Linked DNA regions of Homo sapiens: region 1 is linked to region 2. A link means that fine-mapping ties the variant in region 2 to the expression of a gene that starts in the linked region. Tissue or cell type: skeletal muscle. Region 2 holds a variant in brackets; the other region holds the start of a gene. All regions are shown on one strand. Distances are between the middles of the regions.

The links. PIP is the estimated chance that this variant, and not a neighbour inherited with it, causes the effect.
Region 1: it holds the start of PRIM2, and the variant in region 2 is fine-mapped to the expression of PRIM2 in skeletal muscle (GTEx, PIP 0.95).

What each region holds. Positions count from the first base shown.
Region 1 is chr6:57,313,068-57,321,171 of GRCh38, reverse strand. PRIM2 (DNA primase subunit 2) reads right to left here and starts at 3,542. Exons shown (of 14, transcript NM_000947.5): 1 at 3,471-3,542; 2 at 2,573-2,735; 3 at 612-715. The coding sequence starts at 2,726. RefSeq lists a silencer at 4,408-4,457.
Region 2 is chr6:57,642,894-57,651,003 of GRCh38, reverse strand. It overlaps PRIM2 (DNA primase subunit 2), which reads right to left. Exons shown (of 14, transcript NM_000947.5): 14 at 4,154-5,076. The coding sequence ends at 4,846. Among named protein-coding and RNA genes, the nearest start is that of TRI-AAT1-1, 150 kb to the left of the region's middle. The variant T/C (reference allele first, on the strand shown) is at 4,666.

The DNA of each region.
Region 1 (8,104 bases), 330 kb after region 2:
CTACCTTCTTAATGTCTCTTCAACCGGTCCCCTTCTCTCATTTAATTCAGACTCTCATCATTTCCGGGCTTCTAACTGGTTTCCCTCCTAACAGACATGACCCTGTCAATCTGCTGCTGGCAGTCATCTTCCCAAAATGAAAATCTAATCACATCTGTCAACATGCAGCTCCACTACTACCTCTTCTGGAAAGCCTTCCCAAACCTCCCCAATCTGAGCTGCATAATTATGTATGTTTTTGGAGTTCCTGGAGCATGCATCTATAAACACAGTCATCATCCTGTATTGCACGGGATACATTTGGCATGTCTGGAAATATGTAGGGGTAGAAGCCAGAGATGCTACTGAGCATCCTACAGTGCACAGAACAATCCCTGCAACAAGGAATTATCAGACCCAAAATGATGTTAGTCCTGAGGTTGAGAAACCCTGCCATATTATAATCATCTGACTTCATGTCAATCACCCCTAATACACTGAAGAACCTTCAGGCTAATGATACATTAGTCTTTATAAAAGCCCAGTGCCTAATATAATATCTTTCCCACAAGTGACACTCAATACATAAATGCATAGAAACTGAAGGAACTTTTTTTTCCTTTTTTACTTACTCTGTAGGAAAACTTGAGCTTCCGAAGCTCACTCTCCAACTTACTCTGGTATTGTTCAGTTCCTTTCACATAGCTCACTCCAAGATTTTCAACTGATTTTAACACTAAAAAAAAGAAAAAAGGTATAAATGCAAGATAATGTTTTAAAACTAAATCCAAGACAAAATCTATGGAGGGCAATTCCATAATTACTTGTTTACAGAACATGACAGGTAATTGCCAGTTTATTTCCTGTAACGACATCATATAAACTACATATGCTTATAAGAGGATAATGTCCATCTATGTGCAGAAAATATCCATGTCCCACAGCATAATTTAATACCAGGGATTCTCAATCAGGGAAGAGGGATGGATGGTGAATAATCATTCCTGAGGAACAGAAAAGTATGTCAGTATGGAAAAAAAAACTAGGCACTCCTTGTTTGCATCCTTCGTATGGGAGCTGCCTGTTAGGCAGTAGGCATCATTTACTTGGCATAGATTCAACAGAAAAAAAGCATCCCTTCCTTTCCTGATGAAGCCGAGGACAGAGCACAACAGTGAAGAAGAAAGGCCATCCAAACAGCCAAATGAACCATCCTGAACAGATGCTACATACTGTTCAAAGGTTCCTAAAGCACCATATCAATCTTTCCTCAGATGAATTATTCTCTGGAGGCATTTTTGAAGTCAAGAATGAAGAACTTCTAATTGTCTCCTGAACATAAACCCCATGTCCCACAGGTATGGGTATCCAAATTAATTATCCTCCCCTCATTCCTACTCTTCGTCCTGCCATGCCCATCTCCAGCAGCAGAGTTTCCATGCATCAGATCATCCAAGCAGGAACTGCAGCCACTCCACACCTGCTCCCTCACTCCTCATATCCAGTCACCAAATCCTATCAATGCTAACTCCTCAGTATCCCTTAACTCTCTCCCTTCCTACCACTGCCATTGTCATTATCATAGTTCAGGCCCTTATCATTTCACCTCAAGTGCCAAACCCAAGGGACACTTTTCAATCACCATCTTAATCCCTATGAAGTATTGACACTGCTAAGCTTTCTAAAACCCTTTTCTCCCTTGTCTTCATTCTTTCATTCAACACACAGGCACTGAGTGCCTCCTCTCTGTATTAGCAGTGCTTACCCTGCTCCTCTAAGAATGATTAACAGTATCTCACCTTTCCTTCTGATTTCCCCACAGGGATATCCTGGAACATAAACTCTGAAGACAACGCTAGTGTTTCTGTTTCAATTCATGTCTAGCCCATTCTTTTCTCTAGCAACACACTGAGGATTAAGTAGGCCCCCAGGACGGTGGCCACATCCTTCTTACACCCCAATATCATATCATTAGCATGGCACAAAATGCCCTCCATACTTCTCCATCCACCCTGAATTCCTGAACTTGTTACTGTTAGCTCAAATATGAAATTCTCTTTCATGCTCCAAGCCTTTGCATAGGCCATTATCTCAGCTTGGAAAAACTCTTCACTTCTTCTCTGCTGGAAAATTTCTACTCATTCTTCAGTATGTCCAGATCACATTTCAACTTCTCTAAGAAGCTCATTTAATAAGACTAAGTCAGTCACTCCCACTTCTTTGTTTCAACAGCACTACCATTTACTTCTACTAGAGCAGTTAAAATACTGAATTATGACTATTATTTTGGATGTCTGTCTCCATGTACTAGAATAAAACTTCAACAAAAAATAACATTATTCATCTCAAAATCCCTGCCACCTAGAACATAATGGCACTCAATAATATGCATTGTACAATAAATAAATGAATGAGTACCAAACCCTCAACAAATATTTGTTGAATGGATTGCTGAATGAAGGATATGAATTACCTCAATAAATACTTGTTGAATGGATTGCTGAATGAAGGAAATGAATTACCTTCATTCATTCTCACAAAGGGTAAGTGAGCTTCTCAAGAATATATACATTCTAATTTAAATAGTACTTACATTTAACTCTATCAATAGCCAAGTTTTCAAATTCTATTAAAGATATGTTTTCAGAAGGTGGCTGCAAGTAAAACTGAAGGCAATGAGGGTAGGAAGCATTCCTCTGGTCACCTGCCAACCTCAGCTTCCTCCACTTTCTTCCAGAAAACTCCATCTTGGTCACCTTAGAAGGAAGTACACAAAAAGCGTAAAATGATGGAAAACAAAGTTGGGGGAAAAAAAAGAAAAAACACGAAAAAATAATTCCACAAACACAGAAAAAAAATGGATTTGAGGGCATGCACAAAATGTTAGCAGTGGCAATTCCTGGGTGATGTCCTTCTCTCGTTTCCAGATTTTCTACAATACACCTATAATAATTTTGTAATGGGGGTGGGAGAGGCGCTAGAGCAGATGCAGGTGGTGATCCTAATTTTCAGCAACATGAAAGTCAGGTGATGTTGCCTGCTCATTATAGGCCTGTGTGTCACTGTTCTTGGATCTTTACGATCCCAAGAGTTAACATAAGGTTTTACGTGGTCTGCAATCCTGAACTTAGAGGAAAGTGCTGTAGGTTCTGGCTAAATGAGGGTCTTACTTGATGGACTGGGTCCAGTTACTCACTTCCTCTGTTATGACTCTGGGAAACAGAGCAACTGTCTTTCGGAACTCCTTTTCGGGAGCATCCACAAGTGCCTTACAAAAGTTCCATCCCCAACACCCCTCCTCACTCCACTGGCAAACCTATCTCTCCCCAACTCCTCCCTGGTACCTGGGTGTCTGCCCCAAACAACCAACCCGCCAAGTCTGTCCTTCTGCTACTGCTGCCTGCAAAGTGATCCATCTCTCCTTTCTCTCGACTTGCAAGCCTTAATAACAGGATTGCTCTCTGTCCTAAATTCGCGGAAGTTTCCCCTACCTGCAAGAATTCAAACTCGGGAAAACACAAACGGTGGCAGCCACTGTTCCCGGGTGGCGGGAGAGTTCATATGAAACCGGAAGAGGAAGTGACTAGCACAGAAGGCCAGCCCTGCCCCACCTCCCCTTGGCGGGTAGGAGGGGGTTTGGCCTGAGGCTCTGGGCATGCTCAGTGGAGCGCGTCTGGGAATTCAAGGTGTTCCGTCCACCTTGGCAGCTTTAAAGTGTTTGGATGTCAGTGTTTTGGGGATTTTTTTTCCAAATTTTAAGATGCATTTCCTGTATGTGGAGTCGGTAGCTTTAACGGTTGAAACTGGGGTGCTGAATGCTAGTGGCGAAAACTCCCACACGCCGAAAATTGAACCAATGTAACTTCGTCTGGGGACACTAACAAATATTCCCTATATTGAGGAAAATATGGCGCTTTAACCCTCAGGGCTGGCACTCATCACTTTCAATCTGGGGAGGAATGAGGAAAAAAGGCATTAGGATCTTTTTTGCACCTAGCTCACTATTAGGGGCTCTTTTTTTTCCGCTCGTTTAATCTTTCAGCGACCTATAAGGTCCTATAAGATCGTATTACCCCCATTTGGCAGATGAGAAAACAAGTTACAAGATCCTCGTTAGTTTGCCCGTCTACATACAATACATATTTTGAATTTCGTATTGGGCGGCAAGCCCCTACTGGCAGGTTCCACGTTCAATTCGCTCCCCGCTCTCCGGCAATGCCTCGCACAGAGGAAGCGCGCAGCTGAATTATCTGTGGAATGAACTAGAATGAATGAAAGAAGGCACATTCGCAGGAATCGCTCTGCAATCTACAGGAATTAGAAGAACCCAGCCTCGGAGGGAAGGTAGGGTGGAAGAAGATGAAGCACTGGAAATCACGCGGACGTGCCGCTTACTTTCCAGATGTCCGACTGCAGACTCACAAGCGGGGCGTCAGAGCCACCACACCAGTTCTCCGCTGTCTGTAAGATTTTCGAGAACTGGAAATTAACTTCACTCGTGGCCTCTAGGAGGCGTGCCTCGCTTACAAATGTGCTGGAATGAGGCTCCGGTATAGGTAGTCCTTAGGAGATCAAATGAATGCTTTGAAATGTTCACGTTTTTAGAAATGCAAAGTACATTGAAACAATATCAAGCTTCAAAGCATCTACCCAGCCTGGACTAAACTGTGGCTGGCACTGACTTTATATCAGGACCTGTTCTAAGTGGTTTACATATCAACTCATTTTATTATCATAACCACATAAGATAGGTTATTCCCCCCGACCCACCACCAATACCCGAGACAGAGTCTTGTTCTGTCGCCCAGGCTGGAGTGCAGTGGAGCGATCTTGGCTCACTGCAACCTCCGCCTCCGGGATTCAAGCGATTCTCCTGCCTCAGCCTCCCAAATAGCTGGGATTACAGGCGCCTGGCTAATTTTTGTATTTTTAGTAAAGATGGGGTTTCACCATGTTGGCAAGCTGGTCTCGAACTCCTGACCTCGTGATCCGCCCACCTCGGCCTCCCAAAGGTTATTATATTAAACGTATTTTCTAGATACGGAAACTGAAGAACAGAGAAGTTAAATGAAGTCAAAAGGACACAAAATGTCAGAGCCATGTTCAAACCCAGAGAAACTCTCCAGGCCCCACTGTGCTAACGATCTCACTACACCAATTCCAGTAATATGACAGCAGAGCTTCACCTCATTTCTTCCTCTCTGTATTAAATACATAATACAAATACGTAATACAAATACATCACGTGGTCCAAAGAAGACACCTGAAAGCATATAAACTGCCTGAAAAAACCTGCATCACAGACCATAAGAATATTTACATGAATATCTTATCTCTGGATAGCAAACAAATTTAAATATTATAAATTACAAAGAAAAAAGATATAAAGACTTGACCATAAAAAGTATAAAATTATGCATGTAAAAAATTCACAGAAGTATTTTGCACTCATCAAACTAGAGAAAGGTCTACCAAAAGTATAACATCGAAAAGGTTAATGCCATCAGGATACAAAGAAGTTAACTCATTAGGAAAAAAATCCTAAGACACAAACAGAAAAATAGGACAAGAAGAAGAAGAGGTAACTCATAGAAAAAATAACTACTGTTAAATATGAAAAATGTTTTTATCACTAGAGGCAAAGAAATTTTCTCCTGCAAAATTGTCAAGGATTTTATAATGAAACTACTCAGTGTTGCCACCTGTTTTGCTCCTCATTTAAACCCCTGAGGCTCTTCATGACTCCCATATGGTGTAGTTCTTTAAATAATTATAGCCCTCTACTACAGAAGTTCTTTATCTTTTGGAAGATCAAGATTAAGAACTTCTGTAGTAGAGGGATGTTAATTAGGTCTATGAACCACTGGACAATGTGATGAAAGCTCTCTTCAGAAAAATGCACCTACACACACATCTATACTATTTCAAGAGGTTCAAGATCACCATATGTGGCTAGTTAAGAATTCCAGCACTACTAGGTTTTAAGCTTTCTTTGGATGAGCCCTTTTGTTCATCTCTGTGATCCCCAAAGTACTTCCTACAATATCTGCCCAATTAAAAGACGAAGTAGCCAGTGTCATTTCATGACCAGCTCAGAGAAAACTGGAAATATATGTTCATGCTTAACATACCAATATCTTACTATGTCACATAATAGCTGCCTTTTCATCATATTAAAAACTGATTTTAAGCCCCGGGGAACAAAATACCCTGTGTTGGTCAGCTATTCCAGCATTTTTATTGTTTCCTAATGCCACAGTTTTGGTCACTACCTCACTGTGAAGGGTGTTTTTCTGAATCCAGAGGCAATTGCAATATAAATCCGCATATCACGGTAGCAATAATGCACAATAATGTTATACATTTCAGCAGCCATGTTCAGTAAATCACTGTGAGCTCTTTCATGTATTCACTTCATCTACAAAAAATTGATTGACACAATGCTCAGCCCTGGCAACCAAGATTCTTGTAAATACAGACATTGACCTCACAATCATGGGAAGGAAAACATACATAAACATGTAAGTTTTACTTCCACTGAACCATAGCATCTCAAAAACAGGGATGACTGTTTCATTCATTTCTGTGACCCCAGTGCCTGGCACTCCATGGGCCCTCAATAAATACTTATGAAACTGAATTGTTTTTGTTTTTTCTTTGGTTTTGTTTTGTTTTTTGAGACGAAGTCTCGCTCTGTTGCCCAGGCTGGAGTGCAGTAGCATGATCTCGGCTCATTGCAACCTCCAACTCCTGGGTTCAGGCAATTCTCCTACCTCAGCCTCCCGAGTAGCTGGGATTACAGGCGCCTGCCACCATGCCCAGCTATTTTTTTGCTTTTTTAGTAGAGACGGGGTTTCACCACGTTGGCCAGGCTGGTCTCAGACTCCTGACCTCAGGTGATCCACCTGCCTCGGCCTCCCTAAGTGCTGGGATTATAGGCGTGAGCCACTGCGCCCAGCCCATACTGAATTGTTGAATACTGTGAGAGACATATGAAAAAAAATGCTGGGTTCAGCTTCCCATTAAACAGATGGTTTGAATCAAATGTGACTCCAACCTATAAAACTTCAAGTCCTCATCTGAAAACATTATACACATTCCTTCCAGAATGAGTTGGCTTCCTAGTTTAGCCTGTAATAAAGCACAGAGTACCTTCTCTGGCAGAATTTCCATGAATCATCACTGCTCAATTCAGTGCCTGCCTTGGGCATTACCCAGCTACAGACAGACTGCCCCACGTGGCATTCACCCTGAGATAACTCCTCCACAGCTCCAGAACTTCTATCCCAAAAAGTGTCACACTTACAGCTGAGAATTTAGTTGCCATGCTTGGTAAATCTAAGTGAGTGTTCATTCCTCTTCTGAGCGGGGTGTGTCGCCCTGAAAACCAAAGGCGTGGTAAGCTTCTTTACTGAGTAAGCATGCTGTAAATTCTAGGTCCTACCAGCTGTGTTTGCCATGAAAAGCAGAGAACATGAGGTATTTCCAGCAAGATAGCTGACCCATAAAAGCTAATGCAGAGTTAGCCAACCTCTGGCCCTCCACCCTCCCCATTTCACTGCCTACCTCTCGGAGTTGGCTGGGAAACAACCTAAAGAAAGCACTTCATTCTCTCTCCATTTGCTTTAGATTGCTTTATTAGTCAAAATCAAGGAGCAGGAGAACTGACAGAAAGCACATTCTTAATGGTAGCACGGTGAAGAAACACTACCCTTCCATATATCAGCATTATTTGGTGTGTTCCAGAAATAGTAATTAAACACTTACTAAGTGCCAGGCAACATTTTCTATGCTGGGGATATGAGAATGATGAGAGAGCCAAAAAATCCTGCTCTTATAAATCTTCTAATGGGGAAGAGAGACAATAAACAAGTTAAAGACATAAATAATTATGTTAGATAACAACTACTAAACAGAAAGAAATTAATCAGAAAAGAAGAATGTAAAGTTTTTCAAGGAGATAATGAAATTTTAGAAAAGATAGCCAGGAAAGGCTGGCTAAGAATGTGGCCATGAAACAGAGACCAGAAGAAAACTTGGGATTTAGTCATGTCTATCTTTAGGAGAATAGCATTTCAGGCAGATGGAAGGCTAATCTTAATTCATTAGTATTTAAGACATTACA
Region 2 (8,110 bases):
CACAGTCAAGGTTAACTGTAGGGTTTCTGTATTGACAAAATAGGTGAGAAATAGATGAGAGAACAGGTTTGATTTTTGAACAAATTAAATTTGAGATACTTGTGGGATATCCTAAAAAGAGATCCAAGAGATAGCTGTATAGATGGATCTGTGCTCAGAGAATTCTCAGCTGGAGATACACATTTGGGGATTATTTGCATATGGATAGAAAAAAATACCATAGGGGTGAATGAGTTCACTCCAGGAGACTCATGAAGTAAGAAGAGAACCAGGCAGGAACTCTATGGACAACCAAGAGTTAAGGGTGATAGAGCATTGTTTAAATCACAGTTTAATTCTTGCCAATGAAAGGGAAAAGAGAAGTATGTATCACTATGTCATTTTTAATCAGTAATGAAAACCTTGGTATCCCATGACTCAAATAGAAGGTAAGATCTCTAAAAAAATGTGTGGGAGTAATCGGGGAAATGTTCGCAAGATGGTCAGTATTAATTAAATGCAGTATTTGTTGAATTTACTTTTCCCTGTGCTTTCAGTGCAAAACTAAACAAAACCTTAAAAAGCCTCATAGTTTCAGTGTGGTGAATGAATACCTAGAAATGCAAGGTTAGATTGAAAAACCCATTATATATTTATTAGCAGTGTTGTTTCACTACCTTGTCATCAATGTTCAAGAACAGTACTGCAATGGAAAGCTCAAGGGAAATGCAGGAGCTTTATACAAAGACATATTCTTTAGCCTTTGATAAGGTTCTACAGTGATAATTCTGGAAAAAGTAAAATGTCATGAAGCAATGAACAAAAAGAGCTTACAGGATAGAAAGCAAACCAATAACAAGAACTAGTATCATTTTTGGCAGGCAGGTCAGTGAAGTAGGAAGATAATTTCCTACTGGTGACATGATTTCCATGAAGCTAATTGCCTACAATGCCAATTATGGTGAGAAGCCTTAGACTAGGGCAATCGCGACCTGTGAAAAAGGAATTCAATACTGAAAAGACCAGATGCTTTGGGTAAATAAGTGATTACCTGAATATAAGTTAGATACCCTTGTGAGAAACATTAACTCTTCAGGCCAACAACGTACCACCAGAGGTCCACTCCCAAATAACGCTCTGTGTCTTCCAAAGGGCCTTACAACCAAACCAGCACACCTATCCAAAACGCAGCTTCCACACACCATGGCTCTGTGTATTGAAAGGAAGACAAACTGAATGAAGTTCATAAAATAAATTCCCCATCTCACTCATTTGTCAGAGGGAATATCTGCCAGTATTCTCTGCAATACAGGACTCTGCTTACCCGATTTCTACAGGGAGCTCTGGACTGCCTTCCTGATTCCAGCCTCTGTCAACCTTTTCTCTCCCTCCCTTTGCCAACATTAAAAAAGAAGTTAACAAATGGATCTAATTACCACAGTGGTTTGAGGCTTCTCAACGTTTTTTTTTTTCCCCTTCCAGCTGTAAAGATGTCCTCAGACTGAGCTTCACATTCAGAACTGCTGTCAAACTCTCACTTTAAGGGGCACTTAAATTTAATGTCAAGCTGATGCCTGCGGAAGACCTTGATTAAATTTGCAGAGTAGACTCTAACTGAAACAGAACTTTAGAGTTGTCTCATTTCACCCTTCAAGCTTAAATCCCAGAAGTTTTCTTCTCTTCTTTGTAAAGAATTACAAAGTTTGCTTGCAAAGACCCTGAGTATCAATAAGACAGCAAAGTGTAACAAGCAAAACACCCTGCATGCTTTTAGAGACAGAAGAAATCCCTTAGCTTATTAAAATTCTATGTGAATTAAAGATCTTTCCCATTGCTTTATTCCATTCCCAGCTCATTCGAAATCTATAACTATTTACTTTTATGACTCTATAATATTATAAGCAGTCCTAAAAAGTTTACTTAAAACCTTCCTAGTGTTCTTTCATGCACATGGCAATTAAGTTTTGTACTGTATGGACAGAGTGAAAAACATTATGGAAAAACAACTTGAAAGAAATGTGACAGAATTTCTCCTAACAATGTCATTGCTTCAACCAGCTACAAATTTCCAACCTAGTTTCTTTCTTTTGCTGTTTCTTCTTTTGTCTTTGATACAATCATACAGCCTCTCTTCCTTGAAGAGATAATAAAAGACTAACAGTTAAAAGATCTGGAAGACTCATATTCTTTTCTTTTTCACTGGCTACGGTTTTGAAAAGAGGCTGTTGGCTTTTGATTTTTTCTTTTGGGTTCTTTACATCGCCCAATTCAAACAGGTCTGCTCTCAAAGAAAACAAATCAAAATTGTCAAGACCTGTGAAGCATGAAAAATAAATTGCTTTTTCCAACTCCAAAAAGCACCAGAAAAGCATTAATTTTGATCTTTTATAAACCTCTATCCCCTATCCTCTAATCTATAGATTTCACAGAATGTTTATATATTCTTCTGTATAATACAGGAGATCAAACCTTATTATGAATAAATTGAATTGAACCTGTAATACAACTAATATTTAAACTAGTGTTATTTTGGAGTTCAACTAGACACATATAAAACATTCAAGTGAGATGACACAAATTCCTGGGGCTGCCAGTATAAAATAAACAGTCCAGTAAGCTGCATCTACCATGCCGTTAAGGACTCTGTCCTTTTAGCTGGTGGGAGCACAGGCTTCATAAAAGAAGGAGAACATGAAGCAGTAGAAAAAGACAGCCTTGCAAAATGCTGCCAGATACAAAACATTCTATCAGAAAATTTCTCATTGAACTACAGTGGCGAGAGTGCTTCTAATATCTCCCTTCTTTTAACACAGCGAAGACCTACATTTCTATGCTCGGCTTTCTAAAGCTAACTTAATTCTGTGGTTAAAACAGCTCCAGGTAGCACTTGTTCTTTTTTTTTTTTTTTAAAGAAGGACTTGTGGTTTTGCAGTCCATGGATAAAGTGGTAGGCAATCATCAGATTCCTGTTGAGAACGACAAATGATGAAGGGAGTAGCAGATGGTTTCAGAAGGCAGAGATTTATAGGGGTAATTTGTAGTGGAATAATACTATTTTCTGAACTAGGTAATAATAATTCACCAAGACAAGTAAAAGTTTAGATAGATAGTATCTCATTTAATTATATGTTGCTAAATATTCCAAGAAATCTTTGACTCAGAAGCCTAAAATGAAAACTCAATTAGTTGACATTTTTAGTTTCTGATGATCTGATCCTGTTTAATCCTTTTCATCATGATGCAGTTTATCACATGATTAAAAATATGGTGCTGCTAACAGTCTAGTTTTCTGAATACAATGTGCTCTTTTCAATTTAGTTACTATCTGATTCAAAAGGATAAAAGTATCCCTCTTTACCAGGAAAAGAAGACAGAAATAGACGAATACTTTTCACATATTCCAAGGTAATAGATGAGGAAGAACTATGTTTCAAACAGGGTTTCCTGAGCACCCCAAATCCTATTGGTGAGTGAGTAGAGCCCCAGGAGGAAATCACTATTTAGATGAGGGTATCCACAATGGCACTGCTCCACAAGGCATACGTGCCAGGGATCATCAACTTCACCTTACTCCCTTGACAAAAGCAGGCAGAGAGAACAGGGCATTGATCTCGTATGTTTGTAATCATCCACAACATTTATTAAATTCTATTGCTGGCACTGAAAGGAGGGGGTTACTATAAGTATCACTATTCATTGCTCAAGTAAATTAATTTAATTTACCAAATCTATTTGGTAATTCACAGCAACTACAGAAGTAATAAGGTATGGAAGTTGGAGGGTAAAATAAACACTTTATTTTATATGTACAACCTTCTTGCTTGGTAATTGTCTATTCTTCATGAACCTGTCCCCAGAGTAATGGCAGCAGATAAGACGTGCCATTATTTTACATAATAAAATATCCCTATTATTCCTTAATAAATATAACTGGCTATACTTTATGTTAATTCCCAAGTCACAGTTCACTCAGGAGGGTCTGGTGCCACTCAAAGGTGCCTGATGTAGAATAACCACAAATAGGTCAACTCTTAAAAAAAGGTAAAGAAAAGTTTAAAATCTTCATTAGTGATCAGCAGTGTGTTGGATACTCCAAATTACCATTTTAAAACTGAAGTAATGTCCAATCTGTTACGACATAAGACTCTCCCAATTATACGCAGACACTGTCATGTACACTTTGATATTTATTAACAAAAATGGTCCAGAAAAGGATTGAGTCAAAATTACAAAGTGATTAAGAGTTAAAACAAAAGTTGTTCTTTATTGTAGTTTCTGGGGGACTTTAACCAGTCCCCAAAGCTGTTTTTATCTCCTAAAATAGGACTTAAATGACATCACTCAAGTGACAGATTTTAATAGAAACTCCTCCTCTTTCCTTCTGTCAAAGCAAAATATAGTGAAAGTCTCTGTTGTTACCTCAAACCTCCTTTCCTAATAAGTGTGCATGCCTGTAGATGGATTGGGATGCAGTGAAGAGAGAAGTTAAACAAAAAGGTTAAAAAAAAAAAAAAGGCCAGGCACAGTGGCTCACAACCGTAATCCCAGCACTCTGGGACGCTGAGGTGTGAGGATCGCTTGAGCCCAGGAGTCTGAGATCTGCCTGGGCAACATAGGGAGACCCCCCACCTCTACAAAAAAAAATTGAAAAAAATTATCTGGATATGAGGTGCACACCTGTGGTCC[T/C]AACTACTTGGGAGGCTGAGGTAGGAGGATCACTTGAGCTGGGAAGGTCAAGGCTGCAATCAGCTGTAATTGTGTCACTGCACTAAGCCTTGGTGACAGAGTGAAACCCTTTTTCAACAACAAAGGCAAAATCTTAAAAACAGGAAACAGGCTATTGAGGAAAAAGGGTTATAAAACTGCCTAAGAATCTTCACTAAAGTAATCTTCTAGTCCTTCCATATCCATTTCCAGAGAGGAATTTAAAGAGGCCAGAGCAGATGATGCATCCTTGGTTTTCTGGACACTTGGTTTGGGTTGAGGAGTTTCTGGTTGGATAGGTTCCTTCTTTATGTCTTTACCACCATTTAGAATACGTTGGCTCTCACAAAAGAACTGATTAGGATGATTCAAAGAAAAGCCACAATCATCCACCTGTAAAGGAAGGAAATTTATATTGCATTAATGCATGGCAAAGCTATAAATATATGAGTTTCAAAAGCTGTTTTAGTACTTGTTTAAAACTTAATACCTGAAACATGGATTCTAGCTGTTTGCATTCTAACACTTAATCAGCTACTTACACCATTTCATTCAAAGAGAGCTTCAACCACTACCCAAACCTAAATGGCTCCCACATTTATATTTCTAGTCTGAGCCTCTGTGTTTGGCTCCAGTTCCCTATCTAGTTTCAGTCCCATATCCAACACCTACTCAACATCTAAGATGGCTCAAAGGCAGCTCAAACCCAACAGGAAACGTATCCTTTCCCCTCTCCCCATCCTTTGCTCTCAGTGATTGGTATCACCATTCATCCTTGGGGCATACTAGACACCTTTCTCTCACCTCCCCAGCCCCCAACTCCCACCTGCCACCTCCCATCTACACCAAGCCCTCAATTCTGGCAATACCCAAAACATTACCAATTCTGGTTGACAATTACGTCAAAACAAAAAATTAGAAAACTATAAAAATATGTTTGGAATACAAATGTGTGTGTGTGTGTGTGTGTGTGTGTGTGTGTGTGTGTGTGTGTGTGTGAATGACATTGTATGTTAGTGAGGCACAGGTTAGGGACCTGTGTGATTCATTATTGTATCCCCAGTTCCAAGCAAAAGGCCTACCACATTGTAGGCCAGTAAATATTTGTGGGTTTTTAAGTGATCGTAAAATCATTTTTGATCATTTTGATACTGGTCCCTGATACCACTTGTGTTTTAGAGCTGACTTGTAAGTCTGGCATATGCACTCATTTAGTATGATATAAACTGAAAAAGCAACCTAAGTCAATGTAATTCTTCATTCTAATCTTGGCCTTTCCTTGGTCTTTTTACAGAAAATCTCTTCTTGTAAATTTCACTGTGACTGAATACAAACATGCCTGGTTCATAACTTATGTTATTTTTTCTCAAATACTATCATTAAACTTTAATTTTGAGTATCATTTCAAATTATGCACTCTAGTAATCTCTCCTTATATTCAGTTTCACTTTCCACAGTCTCAAATCCCTGCCTTCTCGCCTTCTGCAGTTGGAGTTGACAACAAAAATATCATTTTGCTTGAGTGAGTGACTGTTGGTTTCTTGGGTGGTATTTTCATTTATCAAGTTTTTGGAAACTGAGAAGTTATTCCATTTCTTTTGTTCATCTGTCTTGTATTAACTAATCCTTTTACGTCTCACTCTTCGTACTGAAGTGACTTGCACACTGTAGGTATCTAATAAATATTTGGTGAAGTGAACCCAGAAATAGTGTATACCAGTGATAATTTTGCATATTTAATTAAAGCCTTACTATATAAAAGACTGTGTTATAAACTATTCACTATTCAGCATACAGGAATACATTTGACTAACTCAAATTTCCAACCCAGTAAGTCATATACTTAAAAACCTCTACCAAGAATGGAGAACTGATGAGGGTCACAGATAAAGGCCTATTACACTCCACAGTAGAGAGAAATTTCGGCTGAGGAGATCAAGGAAGGCTTTGTAAGAGGAGTGCTATTTGAGTTGCGTCTGGAAAGATGGAGAGGGTGAAAAGCTGGGATGATGAGGGGAAAGGCAATATTTGCAGCAGGACCACATGAGCAAGGTAAAGAGGGAATGTCCTGGGAAAGCAAATATTAAATAGTTCACATAGCCTACTATGAAAGGCACATACAAGGAAACAATAAGGAATGAGGTTGGAAAGACAGGCAGGGGCCAGCCTGAGAGAGCCTTGAAAATCAGGGTAAGTGGTCAAGACCTAATTCTCTAGGCAACACAGAGTCACCAAAAACCCTTAAAAAGAGACGTGGTGTGATTAAAGCTATGTATAATCTTTTAGTAGATTAAAATGAATTGGCCAGGGAAAAAGGGGTTGCTGCCATGGTCTAGAATGAACCCTACTGGTGGACGGACCAGCAGACAGAAACATGAGTCTTTTCTGGTAATACTTATCTAAGCACCCTAGGAATCTCTGATTCTCTTTTGCTAGTTGTTAATACATGTTAGGCTAATTTTATAGTAATTCCAGTGTGTAACAGATGGATAGTATACAGACTGATTTTAAGAGTTATAGATCATTAAGAACAAATTTTTATCTTTGCTTCATTTTTTTAACTTAGCTGCTTGATTTCAAAATGTTTCTGAAATGTTTTATAATTTTTATTAACAATGGAATCATTTGTGAACTTTTTTATTACATTCAATTTTCACCCAATTCATTAAAAACTGGGAAATCCAATATAAATTTTGCATTTTGCAATGTGTTTCACAAAAAGTATGTTTATTGTCTAATACATTTTAATCAGAAGGCTTTACAGTTTGTAAAATAGTTTGTAAACAGAGAATCAGAGATTAGAAAGACCTTGGGGAATCCATTAAATTCAATCTCCTCCATGTACAGAGGCCTAAGGAGAATAGATGGTTTATTCAAGGTCATAGAATTAGTAACTGGTTTTGTCTGAATTAAAATTCAGGCCTTCTGACTAGATCATTAGTTGCTCTGAAATCTGTTTTAAGAGATTGTATGCAAAATCATACTGATAATGATATCTCCATTATAAATTTTATTTCTAGAGATAAACTTGGCTACAAAGATTAGAAAAACATAGTTGTACTATTTCATGCAAAAATAACCTAGTATCTTATGCTATAATAATATCTTGGCATTTTCTATACCTCGCTTCAAGTTGTCAGTTAGCAATACATTTATTAGACTTCAATGTGCACAAAATAGGGTAATCTTTTTAAAGTCTGATTTTCTCCATCTATGAAATGGAGATAACAGTGTTAGGTCATAGGGTTGCCATGGGAAAAGTAAATAAAAATGAATGTTAAAAAAAATTGTTCTATGAAATCTAAATAAAATGTTTTTAAAGAGTCAAGAAAAGCAAGTCACTTAAAAAAAAGGTGAAAGTCACAGAAGGAGAGGGAGAAAGATCCTATTGCTTTGCATATATCAAGTTCCTTTTCTACTTTAAGGA